Linked DNA regions of Homo sapiens: region 2 is linked to region 1. Evidence: fine-mapped expression QTL. Tissue or cell type: whole blood. Region 1 holds a variant in brackets; the other region holds the start of a gene. All regions are shown on one strand. Distances are between the middles of the regions. Region 1 overlaps ACER2 (alkaline ceramidase 2). Region 2 holds the start of ACER2 (alkaline ceramidase 2).

Evidence for each region.
Region 2: it holds the start of ACER2, and the variant in region 1 is fine-mapped to the expression of ACER2 in whole blood (TOPMed, PIP above 0.99).

Annotation. Positions count from the first base shown.
Region 1 is chr9:19,450,597-19,458,935 of GRCh38, forward strand. It overlaps ACER2 (alkaline ceramidase 2), which reads left to right. Exons shown (of 6, transcript NM_001010887.3): 6 at 1-1,909. The coding sequence ends at 40. Among named protein-coding and RNA genes, the nearest start is that of MAP1LC3BP1, 8.6 kb to the right of the region's middle. RefSeq lists enhancers at 1,170-1,389, 6,645-7,240, 6,835-7,129, 7,144-7,283. The variant A/G (reference allele first, on the strand shown) is at 4,562.
Region 2 is chr9:19,404,930-19,413,268 of GRCh38, forward strand. ACER2 (alkaline ceramidase 2) reads left to right here and starts at 4,080. Exons shown (of 6, transcript NM_001010887.3): 1 at 4,080-4,263. The coding sequence starts at 4,156. RefSeq lists enhancers at 3,050-3,907, 3,908-4,763, 4,176-4,325 and a silencer at 3,786-4,075.

The sequences.
Region 1 (8,339 bases):
CCTGTGTGCCAACAAGAAATCATCAGTCAAGATCACGTGATGGCAAGATGGTGGCTGGCTTCTCTGCTTATCGCCCCTCATGCAGTGGGCTTCCTTTGCTAGGAAGACAGCCAAGGGAGTTCGAATAGTTGGGGTGTGGGCTATCTTTTCAAAAATCTATTTGCTGGGGCTCTTAATTTCTTTAGTGTTCTTTGTATGTAGGGATTTAAACTTTGTCATATGGTACAAATATTCCCTGCCCCCCTGCAGTTTCCCATTTGTCTTTCAGTATGTTAATATTTTTGTGCCATACTGGTTTTAAACTTTCATGTTGTCACATCTGTTAATCTTTTCTTTAGGATTTCTGGATTTTGTGTAATTTTTAAAAAGGTCCCCTCCTCCTCCCTAATGTGTCTGTGGACCACCTGGATTCCACTGTACAAGGGGAAAAGTGTCTATTCCTTTCCCAAAGATGGAAAATGGAGGGCTTAGGGACACTAGATGCATCTTTCTCAGCATCACTTCCAGATGCAGTGACTTGTTGGGCTGCGTCCTTAATGGCCATGGCAGAGCAGTCCCTTGGGGGATCCAGCCCTGTACAATGCATCTCTTCCTGGAGAAAGCTGGCCTGCTCCAGACCCCACCATTCCCAGGCGCCCTTGGAGTGGACTCTACTGATGACAGACAGACCCTCTGAGAGACAAGACCCTCTGACTCTGTGATGGAAGATGCCAGAGATTTTCCTTTGGGGTAATTGTCCTTAAACAAAACCAAACAGATGAAACACACACAGGACTTGTGGCTAAAAAGGCTAGTTTTTCACTTGCATTTCTCAACTAACCCAGGTTTTACATGCATCTGTGAATCCTTTTACTACTACCTCTGTGGAGAGATGGAGAGACTTCAGATAAACGTGAAGCTAATGAGTAAAACCCTCTCTGCCAAAACCTACACTCCACTTTAGGCCCTTCTTGAAGATGAGCACAATTTTTAAATACTGAGCACAATTTTTAAATACTGACATCACTTCCTCTTCCCCCTCCCACCCCAGCTCAGCAGCCTCAAATCTACAGAGAAGAAGAATTATGGCATGAACATTCCCACAGACCCACCATCTTTAAGACTTGACCTCTGTAAGTTTACCAAAGGGCTCCTCACAATTGTGGTGGGGGTTCTGGTTCAAAATTTGGAGCAAACATGAAGTTTTTGGAAACGTTTTCTCATTTGAAGCCTCCAGTATGCTGTACTATTCTGGAAATTACCTTCAAGAGTCTCACTTCTTGTTTCTGTTGTGTTTTCTGTGGGCATCATGTTCTTCACGCTTGCAGTAGAAGGTGCTTTCTCGGTTTCCCAGAGTATCCAACGGCTCACCTTTCTCAAGTGCTGGCAGTAGCTATGCACTCACGGGCTGGTTTGGGTCGCTGGTGCAGCAGCGCAAATCTGTTGCCTTCTGAATTTTTCTCACCTAATGTGACACTGGCTACAATGAATCTTCTCTTCATCGGGCTGAATGAAAGATTCAAGAACCATCTTCAAGGTGCATGGTGGGAATTATCAACCTCAGGGATACTCATTTTAACTCAGGCGTGTCCTGCTTTGTAACATTCCATTGTTGGGAGAGGGCAGGACAGGTGTGTTCTTCTGTGGGCAGGAGTCATGTCACTGTCCTACATATGTAAGAGTTGGGAAGGTGACGATTTTTGACACATCCAGGAACTCTTACTCTAGTTAGAATTTGTACCAGATCCAAGGTGAAAACCCCAATAAGCAACTGAATTTAGAGTTTAAAAATGAATGACTTTATGCTACATCTGTGGTTATCAAATTATATAGGTTGTTGAGAAGCAGAACGCTGTTTGTAGTAAGAAATCTTTGTGGAACCCCAGTGTGTGAAGTAAATTGTATGTTATTAAATTTATTTAAGGTTAAATTTATGGCATTTACTTAATAATATATGAGGTGGTGAAAATGCAAATTAACAAATTGGTAATTTCCAAGGTAGAAAAATTAGGTGTTGAATGAATGTATATGTTGGTTTATTATAGTTTTATATATATATAGAGAGAGTGTTTTGTTTTTGAGTCAGGGTCTTGCTCTATTACCCAGGCTGGAGTGCAGTGGTGCAGTCATGACTCACTGTAGCCTCTGTCTCCCAGGCTCAAGTGATCCTCTCACCTCAGCCTCCCCAGGAGCTGGGAGTACTGGTGCGTGCCTCCACTCCCAGCTAATTTTTGTATTTTTTCATAGAGATGGGGTTTCACCATTTTGCCCAGGCTGGTCTCAAACTTCTGGGCTCAAGAGATTCGCCCGCCTCGGCCTCCCAAAGTGCTGGGAATAGGCATGAGCCGTCACGCCTGGCCTAAAAAATATTTTTAAAATGATCTTTGAATTAAATATTCGTAGAATTTCTAATGTATCTCTTTGAGACCTAGGAGGTTGATGGAACAGAACTGCTGTTAAGTCCTTTGGGTTTCAAGTCTAGAATTTTTTAAAGGCAAATATCAGCTCATTCTTATTTTAGATTGACCTTATCAGGCATGGATTCTGGTCTCATCTACTTTATGGTATAAATGCTCCAAGGTAGGGGGTTTGGTATATATTTTAAGCCCGGCTTTTTTTTTTTTTTTTTTTTTTTTTTTTTTAATGTGAGAAGCAGAATGTGCTTCTAGAAACTGGTTTTAAAGAGATGAGCTGAGAAAGAAATGTGGAATGGAGTATATTTGAGGAGGACAAAACATAACTTCACTTTTGAACAGAAATCACTCTAGCTTGCCAGCATGGGATGTAAACCAAGAGAGTAGAAATATACCCATCTTATTTTAAGTTGGGTTTATGGCATCGCTCATATATGTAAAAGCACTACAAACTCTTTAAAGAAAATTGGGAAACTACAGAGAAGTCAAAGAAAAAAAAAAGTAACCCATATTTCTATTGCCCAGGTATAATCCTTGTTAATATTTTGGTTTGGTCTCCTCTTTTTTCCCCCAATATAGTTGTAAATAAATGATGTCTTTCAGAGTTGACATTTATCCTGTAGCTTGAATGGCATGTAAATGCCAGTTGTATATTTTTTCATGAAGTGTAGGTTTGGAATACACTAGAGTTAGCTATATGCTTGAATGCTGATCACTGGATTCTGAGACTGACTACTGAGTCTACCTTTTTAATCAAGCCTAACATGAATGGGCTCCAAAAAGTAATGAATGTAATTGTACTTTTTGATGTGCCTCTGCACTTGGCTTGGTGAGTCATCATAAATAGCTGTTAAATATGTGACTTTACAGATTTTGATATGTTCAGATTGTAAAAAATGAATAGTTTATTTCATTAATTGATGGGCAGTCAAGAATCTCCCTCCCTTCAGTAGGGCTGACACTTAGGAGTTAGGTCATGGTTGTGGTTACTTGGCATGGCTAATCAGATTTTGTTCTGGTCAGAATTTGCCCAAGATCAATACCCAGCAGAAACTGGAGTTAGGCTATAAAAAACCATTCATGTTTCCGAGTGATCATTTCAGTCAGCGATTCATGTTTTACAGTGTTTAGTTGTTGATTATTAGAAAAAGTAATATTTTCTTCCCTTTATGATTACATCATTATAAATCAAGTCCTTCCATGAACACATTTAAGGTGTGTGGAGATGAGATCTCTGAATCCATTTGGGGATGGGCTGCATTTTTGGGGAACTCTATGCCTGTCCAGTGAAGAGTGCCTAAAACATTAATTATAGATCAAAGATGTTCTGTTGAGGGACAAAGCTTGATGGTCATCAAACACAAGGCTTTGTAAAAATACGACCACCTATTCCACTTACTGGATCTGTCAGGTGTGTAAAACTTCTCTCGCCAGTTCATCATGCTTCCATGAGCCCTCAGGACTGGGATTTGAGCCTTCCTGGCTCTTTATCCCTTGGGGCAGACATGGAACCATCTCTGAGGGACCAGGTGGATGCTGAAGCTCACCCAGTCAGGGCCCCTCTCCTAGCTCCTTTTACACTGAAATTAATCTGAAAGCTTTCATAGCCAAGGCTTTGCCTAGGTGCTATTATTCCAGCTGGCCAAAGAGAAGTCTTGGGCCAGATTGGGATTCTCAATGGATTTTATAGACATAATTCCCCTGCAAACTTAAAAAAATAAATAACCCCTACTTTATAGGACTAATTGTTTGAATTGTATCTTTCTCTGTATGTTAAACCAGATTTAAAACTATTTTATAACCACAATATGTAATCAGAGCAATATAGTGTTTTCAGATATATACCTTGTTTTATACCTTATGTAGGTGTCCTACATAAGGGTGGCATGCCCACTGGCTGTGGTAAAATTTAATCCTCATTGCTTTGGGAGTGACTTAAGGCCTTTTGAAGTGGAGCTTTTGCACTTTATACTTTTTCTGTGAACTATGATAACTATATTTGATATTAAAGCTGTAAGTGGCATTTTCAGCAAATGAATATGTACATGTTTGTGTCTATTTCCAAAATGATTTCTGAACTATCTGCAGTGAAAATGTATCTGATGGATTGTAGAGCAAAGCACATTGCCTAAATTCATTTGTTAATGAATTGGGTACCATTGTTATTA[A/G]AAATGCGTAAAGTAATTGTTGTTCCTTGTTGGTTTCTTCTCAGAGCTGTGAAATTAACACATGAAAATATTTCCAGCATAAAATACCTAAGAACAGTTTATTTTTACTAAAACTTCTATAGTCATGTCATATAGATATAAATCTCAAATATAGGCCTGGTGCGGTGGCTCGTGCCTGTAATCCCAGCACTTTGGGAGGGGAAGGTGGGTGGATCACCTGAGGTCAGGAGTTCGAGACCAACCTGGCCAACATGGCGAAACCCCGTCTCTACTAAAAAAAATACAAAAATCAGCTGGGCATGGTAACTCGCACCTGCAGTCCCAGCTAGTCAGGAGGCTGAGGCAGGAGAATCACTTTCACCTGGGAGGCGATGGTTGCAGTGAGTCAAGGTTGCACCAATGCCCTCCAGCCTGGGTGACAGAGCGAGACTCTGTCTCAAAAAAAAAAAAAAAACCCAAAAATCTCAAATATAGAATACAGTTCATTTATGCTGGATTTCATCAAATCACTAGAAGGAAGATCGTGACATTTTAAAATCATAAATTTAGCAGGAAAATTTTTACCTACTTCTTTTAATTTTCTGTGGCAGTTTTTTAAACTGAAAGGACTCACAGATCATCAGATTTAGAAGAATAGTCTGGGCACAGTGGCTCATGCCTGTAATCCTGGCACTTTGGGATGCTGAAGTGGGTGTATCGCTTGAGCTCAGGAGTTCAAAACCAGCCTGGGCAACATGGTAAAACCCTGTCTCTACCAAAATTACAAAAATTAGCCAGGTGTGGTGATACACACCTGTAGTCCCAGCTACGCAGGAGGCTGAGGTGGGAGGATTGCTTGAGCCTAGGAGGCAGAGGTTGCAGTGAGCAGAGATCGTGCCACTGTGCTCCAGCCTGGGCCAAACAGTGAGACCATTTATCAAAAAGAAAAAAAAAAAAGAAAAATCGTAAGAGAAGAAAGACTGGATAAGCATTATCTGTATCATTACAGTGGGTTTTTAGACTTTTTTTTTTTTTTCTGGCAGAGGTGAGGGGACAAGGAGTGGCCCCATAGTTGTTTGGCAATATAAAAGCTGTAGGAAAACGTCCATGTAGAGGTTGAGTATCTCTAATCCAAAAATAAAAAATCAGAAATTCTCCAAAACCTGAAACTTTTTGAGCACCTATATAAAAATCAAAGGGAATATTCCTTGGAGCATTTTAGACTTCTGATTTTTGGAATAGGGATGCTGTATAATGCAAATATTCCAAAGTCTGATATCTGAAATCCAAGCATTTCTGGTTCCAGGCACTTTGGATAAGGGACATTCAATCAGTATATAATTTTCTGGGGGTTCAGACATCTCTAGTAGCCCATCCAGGTAAACAGCCTCTGCCCAACAGGAGACTAAGCAAGCACTCAAATCCTTTTGGTGCTGAAATTGGTTACTCAGTCTTCGGGACTGAACTTTTTTGAGGCTGTGGTCAGGGACAGTGGCTGAGGAAGTTGAGAGCTCTGCTTTTGGGGCACTGGCACGGGTGTGTGTGCCTCTCTCCCCGACAGTCTGGATTATTTGTTTCTCCTCTTGGGTGACCTCTTTTTCTGAGTCTGGCTGGGAGTTGATGCAGCCACACCTGCTCCCTTTTCCAGATTGCCCTTTGAAGACCAGAGCTCAGGGGCTAGCCTCTCCCACTCTTTTCTTTAAAGGACTTTTCATTAAAAGACATTACATTGAAAGACTGTGTTAAAGAACTATACTACAAAGGGCTGGAGTGGGCAGACCCAGGGTTCTGGCAAGTGACATCTTAGGGCTCCTCAACAAACTGGGAACTTAGATTTTTTCCTTGCAGCCTCTTTCCTGGTTTACAGTTTCACAGTTCTTAAGATGGTGTTTGGGTTTGTCATACCGTTCTGTCTACTTTTGTATAGTTGGATTTTTTCATAATAAGAACTTAAAAGATACGGTATTTGAGATTTTGTTCTCCACTGTCTCCAGAGCCGGTTCTCAGCCTCCTTTCCGGCCCCGTTTTAAGAGGGCTGGCAGCCCCTCTCTCCCAGAACTTATCTTGTCTCAAGTGGCACTTCTGTCTCTAACTGTCTCCAGCCTGGCGACACCTAGTTTACCTGGGAAGTCTTCTCTTTGGGTGTTAACTCACAAAAAGGAAGAGATCACCCTCACCTGGGTTTTTATTTATTTTATGCTTCTCATTAAAACAAAACATTTGATTCAGCTGCTTTGGCAATTGAGAGCAGAGACCAAAGTGCTATTTTTAAGATGTAACAAATAACAGTAGTTTATTTTTATATTCGGGCTAGTGATAGGAAACTGGCTGAAGGTAAGGCCAGGAGCATGAAGTAATGGAAAACATACAGTGGCGCTGATGATATTTGGGAGAGAGGGTTTCCTGTGAACAAAGAAAGCCATTAGCTACTGGGTGGGAGGGACGGAGACGCTCCTGGAGTAATACTGCCATCTTGTGGGTTTTTGAGGCATTGCTATGTGGCGCAAGCGAAGCCCTTCCCAGTTCCTAATCATCCCAGAGATCACCAATTGTCTCAAAACGCCAAGTTATGTAATCTCTTTCTGGGCCCAGGTATGTTTCCCTGCATTTTTCCAAGCATCTCTCTCCCTTCCTTTTCCTCTCCTCTCTTCCCTTAGAAATTCAGTTTTCACCCCCCACCCCGGGTGTTTTAGAGGTTGCCCAATGTGAAAGCAAATACTGTTGTTGGCTCTCGGTATTCGTGGTTCCAGGACCCCCCAACCCCCATACCAAAATCCCAGAGGCTCCAGTCTCATACATAAAATAGCATTGTATTTACATATTACCTATGCACGTCTTGTGTGCTTTAAATCATCTCTGGATTACTTATAATACCTAATACAATGTATATGCTGTGTAAACAGTTGTTAAACTGCGTTGCTTTTTATTTGTATTATTATTTATTGTTGTGTTATGATTTTTTACTGTTTCTTTTTCCCTGAATATTTTCGATCCATGTTGAATAGGTGGATGTGGAACCTGAGGTTACAAAGGGGCTGTATTTAAAACCAATTTAAGGTAGATGTGATTTAAAGGAAGTTTTGTGTTTTTGTTTGTTTATTAGATATGGGGTCTTGCTGTGTTGCCCAGGCTGGAAGGTAGGGGCTATTTACAGGCTCCATAATGGCACACTACAGCATTGACCTCCTGGCCTCAAGCGATCCTCCTGCCTCAGCCTCCTTAGTAGCTGGGCCAAAAGGCACTAGCCACCGACCAGTCTGGAGGAAGTTTTTAATCCACTGGAGTGAAATTTAACTTTTGGGATTAATAGCTCAATTTACACAAGTCAAATGTCATTATAACTCAGATCTTTTTAAAGATGAATCTAATTTAAATCAACACTCAGCAAGTGTCTGTGTGGTATTACCTATTATGCTGCCTGCAGAGGGTTATGGGGACGGATGGAGCAGCTCAGATCTGGGGAGGGGAGAAGGCCACTGACTCTGCCAAATCCCCGTAGTGGAGAGGAATCAACAGTGCTAGGGAGGCAGGAAGGAGAGAGTGGTGAGTTTTCACCAGGGAGGAGCGAGAATTCTAAGCTTTAACTGATAAACCATGAGCCACATATAATACGGAATTTCAGTCCAGTGAAATAATTGGTCGACTCCCTAGGAATATTATTGGTAGACTCCCTAGGAATTTTCTTACAAGCAAACCTTATTTGACAGCCCATCACATAAGTTATCTTTCACATAAATGGTCTCATTTACTCCTCTCAGCTATTTTGCGAGGCTGGCATTACCATTATTCCTGTTTTGGG
Region 2 (8,339 bases), 46 kb before region 1:
ATTCTGAATTCCTTGCAAGGGCTGTTCCTTCAAACTTGCTCCCTTGTGGATCTGTATCACTGAGTCATGTAGGCCAAAAGCATCGTAAGCCAAATAGTTGGAACTCAGTAGTTCTGTTCCTTGCTGTCACTGCATCCTTCCCTCAACAAACTTAGTTTAGAGTAGACATCAGAATTTTGTATTCAACCACTAGCAGTAGTTTCTAAGGCATCATGCAATTAATATAAATCAATTTTAAAATTTATAACCTCCTGATAGGCCCTCTTGTTAAATTACCAATGTTGTATTTATTTTAAAAATGTTGGCTGGATGCAATGGCTCACTCCTATAATCCTAGCACTTTGGGAGGCTCAAGGGATCACTTGAACCTGGGAGTTTGAGACCAGCCTGGGCAACATGATGAAACCTTGTCTCTACAAAACATACAACATTTAGCTGGGCATTGTGGTGCACCCTTGTGGTCCTAGCTACTCATGAGGCTGAGGTGGGAGGGTCGCTTGAGTCTGGGGTGGGGGGGTCAAGGTTGCAGTGAGCTGAAATTGCACCATTGCACACCAACCAGGGTAACAGAGGGTTACCCTGTCTCAAAAAAAAAAAAAAAAGTTAACAATGTTAACAATGGGGAGAGCTATGAAAACAAAATTTTAGAGACAGTGTGACTCAAGTACGGTTTCTGTGCAGTTGTAATTAGAAGGAACCAATGTGGCTGACTGATTTTGAACTACAATTGTCACTGACAATAAGAGTTACTGTGGAGGATGAAAAACTCCCATCATTCCCTTAGCAAGACTTGGAAAGAAGGATGAATTACATTCAGCAAATTTAATATTTCACTGGTGCTAAAACTCACATTGTTTTGCGTTGTTAAATCTCTGAAATCCTGATGCATTTTACCAAGAATGGCATTTTATGATTATGGTTGGCTAGGTCATGGTTGTGATGTGGTGTCACTGCCTGCATATGTACAGACTTGGTGGTTATTCCTGGTGGGATGACTTGGCAACTGTAATCTCCATGTTTCTCTCAACAGATTATATAAGGACCATCTGGAAAAGAAACATGCTGCCTGTTGTCTGGAAACCTTCCACTGACACCTTCAGGTAAGATCAGGAGAGTCCCAGCATCAAAATTTGTAAAACAGGTGTCAGTAGTTTGCAAGAAAACAGTAGTGGAATAGTTTTAAGAAATGCTGCATTATTAGCACATAGTAATTAAGGACACAGAGGACATTTCTATATGAATGACACAGACATCAATGACTATAAGCTGAAAAATGACTCAGAAGAACAGAGATTCTGAATGTAAAGAAATTACAGGAATTCTTTAATGAATTTATTTTTGCTTATACCTTCCTTCTTAGGTATGCACAAGAGATGTATGATAACAATGTAAGTCTAAGTCTGTGCTTGTTCACTAAAAATTCTAAATGATAAAAAAGTATTACAAATAGTTTAATTGGAAATATTTCTTTTTTTTTTTTTTTTTTTTGAGATGGAGTCTCGCTCTGTTGCCCAAGCTGGAGTGCAGCGGCGCGATCTTGGCTCACTGCAACCTCTGCCCCCTGGGTTCAAGCGATTCTTCTGCCTCAGCCTCCCGCATAGCTGGAGGTGCCCACCATCATGCCCTGCTAATTTTTGTATTTTAATAGAGACGGGGTTTTGCCAAGTTCACCAGGCTGGTCCCGAACTCCAGACCTCAGAAGAGCTGCCTGCTTTGGCCTCCCAAAGTGCTGGGATTACAGGCATGAGCCACTGCATCCGGCCAGGAACATCTTTTTAACAGCAACTTTCAATCTTTTTAGTCTGAGGACCCCTTTACACTCTTAAAAAATATTGAGAACACCAGAGAACTTGTGGTTTATATGGTAACATCAATAGTTACCGCATTAGAAATTTAAACAGACTTTTAATACCAAAGAATCACAAGCACATATTCCATTAGCTGTCGGAGAGATAATGACATCACACATCATGTATCCTCTGGGAAGTTCCAATGTACACTGGTAAGAGAATGAAAATGAAAAGAAAGGGAGGAACCACACTTTGAGAATCTCTGGCATATAAAATAATGGTTTTTTAAAAATACCATTATATTTTGATGAATATGGATATATTTCCAAGTAAACTGTTGTTGGAAGAAGTAAAATATTGACTACAGGGAAAATTCTATTGCTGAACAGTTGGTGTAGCATTTTGAGACACAGAAATTAACTGATGTATCTTTCTTCTGTGGCTGTGGGAAACATCCACCCCAACCGCCCTTCGTTTTTGAGATGGAATCTCGCTCTGTCACCCAGGCTGGAGTGCAGTGGCGCGATCTCGGCTCACTGCAAGCTCCGCTTCCCGGGTTCACGCAATTCTCCTGCCTCAGCCTCCTGCGTAGCTGGGACTACAGGCGCCCGCCACGACGCCCGGGTAATTTTTTGTATTCTTTTTTTAAGTAGAGACGGGGTTTCACCATGTTAGCCAGGATGGTCTCCATCTCCTGACCTCGTGATCCGCCTGCCTCGGCCTCCCAAAGTGCTGGGATTACAGGCATGAGCCACCGCGCCCGGCCCTCAACCGCCTTTCTTAGGTGGCCAGCTCACTCCGGGTATCCTGTAGGTCTGGGTAAATCAACCCTAGGGGAAGGTAAGAGTGTATCTTCTACTTGGGTTCTGGAGGGCAGTGGAATTGCCCGTAAAGCAGGAGGAAGGGATAGAGGTTGGGACAAAGATGAAAGGAGGAGTGTGGTTTGGCCCCTGGGGGACAAACCTGGATTTTCTAGAGACTAGGAGAGGCGGCGGGGCTTGCAGTTTTTGTCAGTGATGGAGATCTCTGGGGACTTGCACATGGCTGTGTGGGTACTGGTGGGCAGACAAACACTTGGTGCAGAGGACACTGAAGCACCACCCAGGGTCCTGCTGGGCAGTCAGGCCCAGAGAGAGGGCAGACCCTGGGGAGTTGCTGGCCTTTAGGATACCCTGCGGGTCCGAGCAAGACGTCCTAATGACAGTCACCAATGGGCTGCTGCCCAGGGCCTCTTCTGCCGCTGTCCTGACCTAGAATCCTACAACCTTTCAAGGAAGGAGAACGGGAGCCACCACATACACACAGAGGGTGGCTTTCCTCTAGGGATCCTGGGAACCAGATTGGCTTTCATTTACAAACCGCAGAACAGTTACAGAAGCAAAAGAAGGTAGTTATGACTGGATCTGAGGACATCTTGCCTGAATTGAATTTCCAGCTCTGTCACTTGCTAATAGAAGCCCCTCACAGGGTCTCTGCTGGGCACACTAAATGAGTGATACATGGAAACTCTTCAGACAGCACCTGGCATGTGTATGTTATCTATCACCTCTTGAACCTCGATATCTTGGAGATGTCATAACTGCCACACTACATCCTCTGCAGTTTGGGATGGCTGACGTTTGACCCTTTGCCTAAGTCCCCATATCGAAGGCTAGATTAAGCCTTAACGCTGGAGCCAAGGGGAGGGAGGGCAGGAACGTACTCTAAATAGAAGTGCTCCCCCGGGGACTGGGCGGCCCAACCTGCTCCAGCAGCCGGGAAGGTCTTCCTGCCACAGTGACCGCAGCGAGTGGCGTCCGGCCTCGGAGGGACTGAGGGCACTTCTCTGGTGTAAGCACTGGCGTCCAACGCCGGACGCAGCAAAATCGCTGCAAACTCTGGGTCCAGAGAGGTCCAGGTCCTCCCGGGTTTCTTTTTATTTTAAATTTTTTTCCAGGGAGAGTTCTGGCGCTCCTTCAATCGGGGGAGGCTGCGAGTCTGAGCCAGGAGATGGGCGTGGGCAGGCGTGGGTAGCACCATCGAGGCCCTGGCCACCTGCCGGGTGCTGGGTAGTCTGGAAGAGTCTGGAGCCCGGTCTCCGCCTCCAGGCGCCCCACCCTGGACCCCTCCTCCACGCGGGTCCCGCCCCACGGTGGGCGTGGCTTCCAGGGGGAGGGGCCGGGGAGGGTCTGCGAACGAGTAACCTCCCGCAGGCGAGGCGAGGCGGGGCGGAGCGCGGGAGGCCAGTTGGGAGGCGCACATCCGGCGGTTACCCGGTGCTTCATAAAGCCGCTTTCGCCGCTGGCTGTCGCCGCGTTTTGCCTCCGCAGCAGCTCTGGGCTCTTCTCAGCTGCGCGAGCAGCTGCTCCAATGCCCCGGAGTGGCCATGGGCGCCCCGCACTGGTGGGACCAGCTGCAGGCTGGTAGCTCGGAGGTGGACTGGTGCGAGGACAACTACACCATCGTGCCTGCTATCGCCGAGTTCTACAACACGGTGCGGGGCGCGGGAGCGGGGAAGGCAGGCGGGCCAGCGGGAGGGGGCTGTTCCCGCGCCGCAGCGTCTGGAAGCTGGACGTGGGTCTCTGCGCGCATCTGGGGGCATTCTCTCCAGGGGCTGAGTCAGTCCACACCCCCTCCTCGGCGCGCTCCTTTCAGTTCTCCATCTGTCCTCCTCTCCTGTCCCCATTCCCGACAGCTGGGCTCATCTTCCTCCTGCTGTCATTTGTTTTGTGATGGTCCTATTGTCTTGTTTGGCCCCCACGCGTCCAGGAACCAGGGGTCTGTGTCAGCCCATTCTCCTTGTTTGGGTCAGCTGGGGGCGGTGAACCTGCCGGGACAAGTCTCTTCCTCCCCTGGGATCTCTGTGGCGTGACGCACTTGGGTCGCATTGTGCTTTTTTGCCCTGAATACCTGCTCTCGGAGTGCTGGGAAGAGCACGCCCCCCGCAGGTCCCCGCGGCTGGGGTCACTCCCACCAGGCAGACTTGCCCCACCCCCAAGAACATGCCTATAATGGTCGAGTTATTTTTGGTCAGAATCAAGTTAATTACTACTTGTTTTTTTTTCTTGCCTTTAGTGTCCTGTCTTGTGCAAGCCGCTAATTCAACTCCCCCAGGACTGTGCTTTCTCCAGTTCTGAAGTCTGAGGGATGAAAGGAAAGTTTGGGAGTGATAATGTGCGGGTTTTGGATTTGCCTAGGTCCCTAGATAAGGGTGAGCAGAAACTTCCCCATTGCAGAATCCTGTGTGATTTTAGTTCTTGTGGTAGGGAAGGGTTGCAGCTGGGAGAGGAAATGCCTCTTATTTTGTGTATGTCCATGGCTCAGAATCCTGGTACAGAATGTGAGACTTTGCGTGGTCATTTCTGTGGCTTATCTTTTCACCGCCCAAACAAGGGAAACAGGAACTCCTGGTTTGGGTCATTGTGAATTTGAGGTTGTTGTTTAGGACTTTTCCTTTTGGATTTGCTAGAGAGAATGTCTTCAGCAGGAGTCAGGTGCTTACTGCCTGCAGGAATCTCAGATGATCTAGTCCCTGTCCTTTTATTCATCTGATGAGAAAACTGGGCTCTTGAGGAGGGAGCTGTCATGCTCACATTTCTGGCATGGCTGGGGCCACAATCCAGAAGTCTGGGCCCTTCCTTCCCTCAGTGCTGAAATCCATGGCTGGCTTCCACACAAACACTCCTGCTCCTTTTTTTATGATTAGGTTGGTTCCTTAAGAAAACCTAAGGCTGGGCGTTGTGGCTCACACCTGTATTCCTAGCACTTTGGGAGGCCAAGGCAGGTGGATCGCTTGAATCCAGGAGTTCGAGACCAACCTGGGCAACATGGCGAAACCTCATCTCTACAAAAAAATACAAAAATTAGCTGGACATGTGGCACACACTTGTCGTCCCAGCTACTTGGGAAGCTGAGGTGGGAGGATCACCTGAGCCTGGGAGTTGAAGGCTGCAATGAACTGAGATCGCGCCACTCCACTCCAGCCTGGGCAACAGGGTCTCAAAGAAAACCTGGCCCTCTGCTGACCACAGATACTGTGAAAGACAGTGGAAGTGGCCATGACTTATGTATTGCATAACCTCCCAGAGCATGCTGTCAGGGGTAAATAGTTGCACACAGAGGATGGGCTGGAGTAGTTCTGGGTACTTTCAATAAGGAGAAACACCAGTGGTAACACAAGCTGTCCTTTTGTAAATAAAGAATATAGTGAAAGAGTAAGGATTTCACCAGAGTTCAAGAAGAAAAGACAGCTTGATGACAGGTTCTCACACACTTAGCAAGATTATTCTCTGTGCAGCCTGGGGTCTACAGAGAGGGTCAACCTTGGTTATTTTGGCCAAAAAAGCTAGTGTATGGCTTCTCTGAGTCTGTCTTGAAAAGTGTCATAGGGCTGGATGAAAGGGAGAGTTTGTCTTTACTTTTAATCTAGTCCCATTGGAGCCGTTACTCTATGTAGTGAGTGCTAAAGTCTTTTTCAGAAACTAACTGTTGATCTTCAGCTGCATTGTCTGGCTGATGAGCCCAGCTGGCCCATCTGACAAACTTTATTCCTTGGAATACTCATAAACCACAAAATTTGCTCTGGCAAAGCAGAGAGCGTAAGGTGTCAGAGAATAAGGTCATTGCCTAACTTTGTTGAGTGTAGGTCCAAAGAATTTAGCAAAAAACGTTTCTTCCCCTCTGTTGCTATTTAAAAAAATTTTTTTTTGAGATGATCATGCTCTGTTCCAGGCTTGAGTGCTGTGGTGCGATCTTGGCTCACTGCGACCTCCACCTCCAGGTTCAAGCGATCCTCCCAAAGTGCTGGGATTACAGGCGTGAGTCACCATGCCCGGCCTTCTTCCCCTGTGTTCTTACGTACTACTTATATTTTGATGCTTATCACAGGACATTCCCATGCTTATCTTACTCCTGTGTTGAGAAAGACAGTAGACTGTTATGTGGTGATAAATATCGTCTTAAATCCTCATAATAAGGCAACAGGTCTAATTACCCAGTTTATAGGAAACTCATAATCATTACCAGTTTTGAGAAAAAGTTGGAGGAATTGACAATGTTAAATCAGGAGAAGACCGGGAGAGGGATCTAGAACCTTCTTAATGGGTCTTAGGGGTAGCACATCACTACTACACCTTCAGATACTACTGTCTACCATTACTTAATTGCTATGTGTTGAAGCTCTGCTGGGTACTGTATACTCATTCTAGACAATGGGTGCTATTTATTATATCCATTTGATAAAGATGGAAATTGGGGCCTAGAGAGTTTATGTAACTTGCTGTGGTCAAGAGCATAGCACAGCTGAAGTCAGAACTTGGTCCATTTGACTCTACCAAGAGAGTTATCTTGAAGCTATAAGTGCCACTGTAACTAACTTAGATTTATCTATTTGGCATAGAATAGATATTTATTATTTAGTCATTCCATAACTTAAAACTCCTGTCTTGGGATCATTTTATCTCTAGGATAAAACTCATACTTTTTGATAGGAAAAAAGTTTATTTAAAGTAGTTTGTAAAATTACTGTTTATTGTAAAAGTAATATGATCATGGTAAAAAATTTAGAGTATGTAAGTTGTAGAGTGAAAAATAACCTTCTGTATCTTTCTAGATATTTTCTAGGCATATAAAAAGCACATGTATCTGTGTGCATATAAAATACGCATGTATAAGGCTGGGGGCAGTGGCTCATGCCTGTAATCTCAGCACTTTGGGAGGCTGAGGCAGGCAGATCATTTGAGGTCAGGAGTTTGAGACCAACCTGGCCAACATGGTGAAACCTCATCTCTACTAAAAATACAAAAATTTAGCTGGTTGTGGTGGTGCGTGCCTGTAAGTCCCCGCTACTCAGGAGGCTGAGGCAGAAGAATAGCTTGAACCTGGGAGGTGAAGGTTGCAGTAAGCTGAGATCGCGCCACTGCACACTCTAGCCTGGGCAACAGAGCAAGATTCTGTCTCAAAAAAAAAAAAAAAAAAACCAGCATGTATGGCGTAATCACGAATACTTGAAGTTTTTTTCCAAGATGGTACTGTGTAAACTCTTATGTACCTTGTGTTTTTCACTTAATATGTCTTGGAGATATTTCCATATCAGCTCATATAGTGCTCTCTTCCTGTTTATAATGTTTATACAGTACTCCCTTTAATGGATTGATCATAATTTATTTATCTAATCAATCCTTATTGATGGACATTTCATATAGTTTCTCTCTGTTTTATTGTTTTCATTTTGGTTTTTGAACAGTGATTCAGTGAATATCCTCATTCATGCATCTGGATGTACTTTCGCAAGCACTAATCTTAGATGGGGATTGCTGTGTCAAGGAGGATATTCAGTTTAAATGCTGATAATTATTGTGAAATGGCACACTAAAGAGAGTGCACTGATTTGACTTCCACTGACAATGTTTGGGCATACAAAACATTTTGCTTTGGCCTCTGCAAATTTCTGTTGCCTCAAATTGTATCATCCTTTGCTTCAGCCAAGCCTAATATCTCTTCCATGAACATGTAATTTCCTTTCACAGCCTTTTACTTGTGCACATTTTATACTGTTTCTTCTATATACAA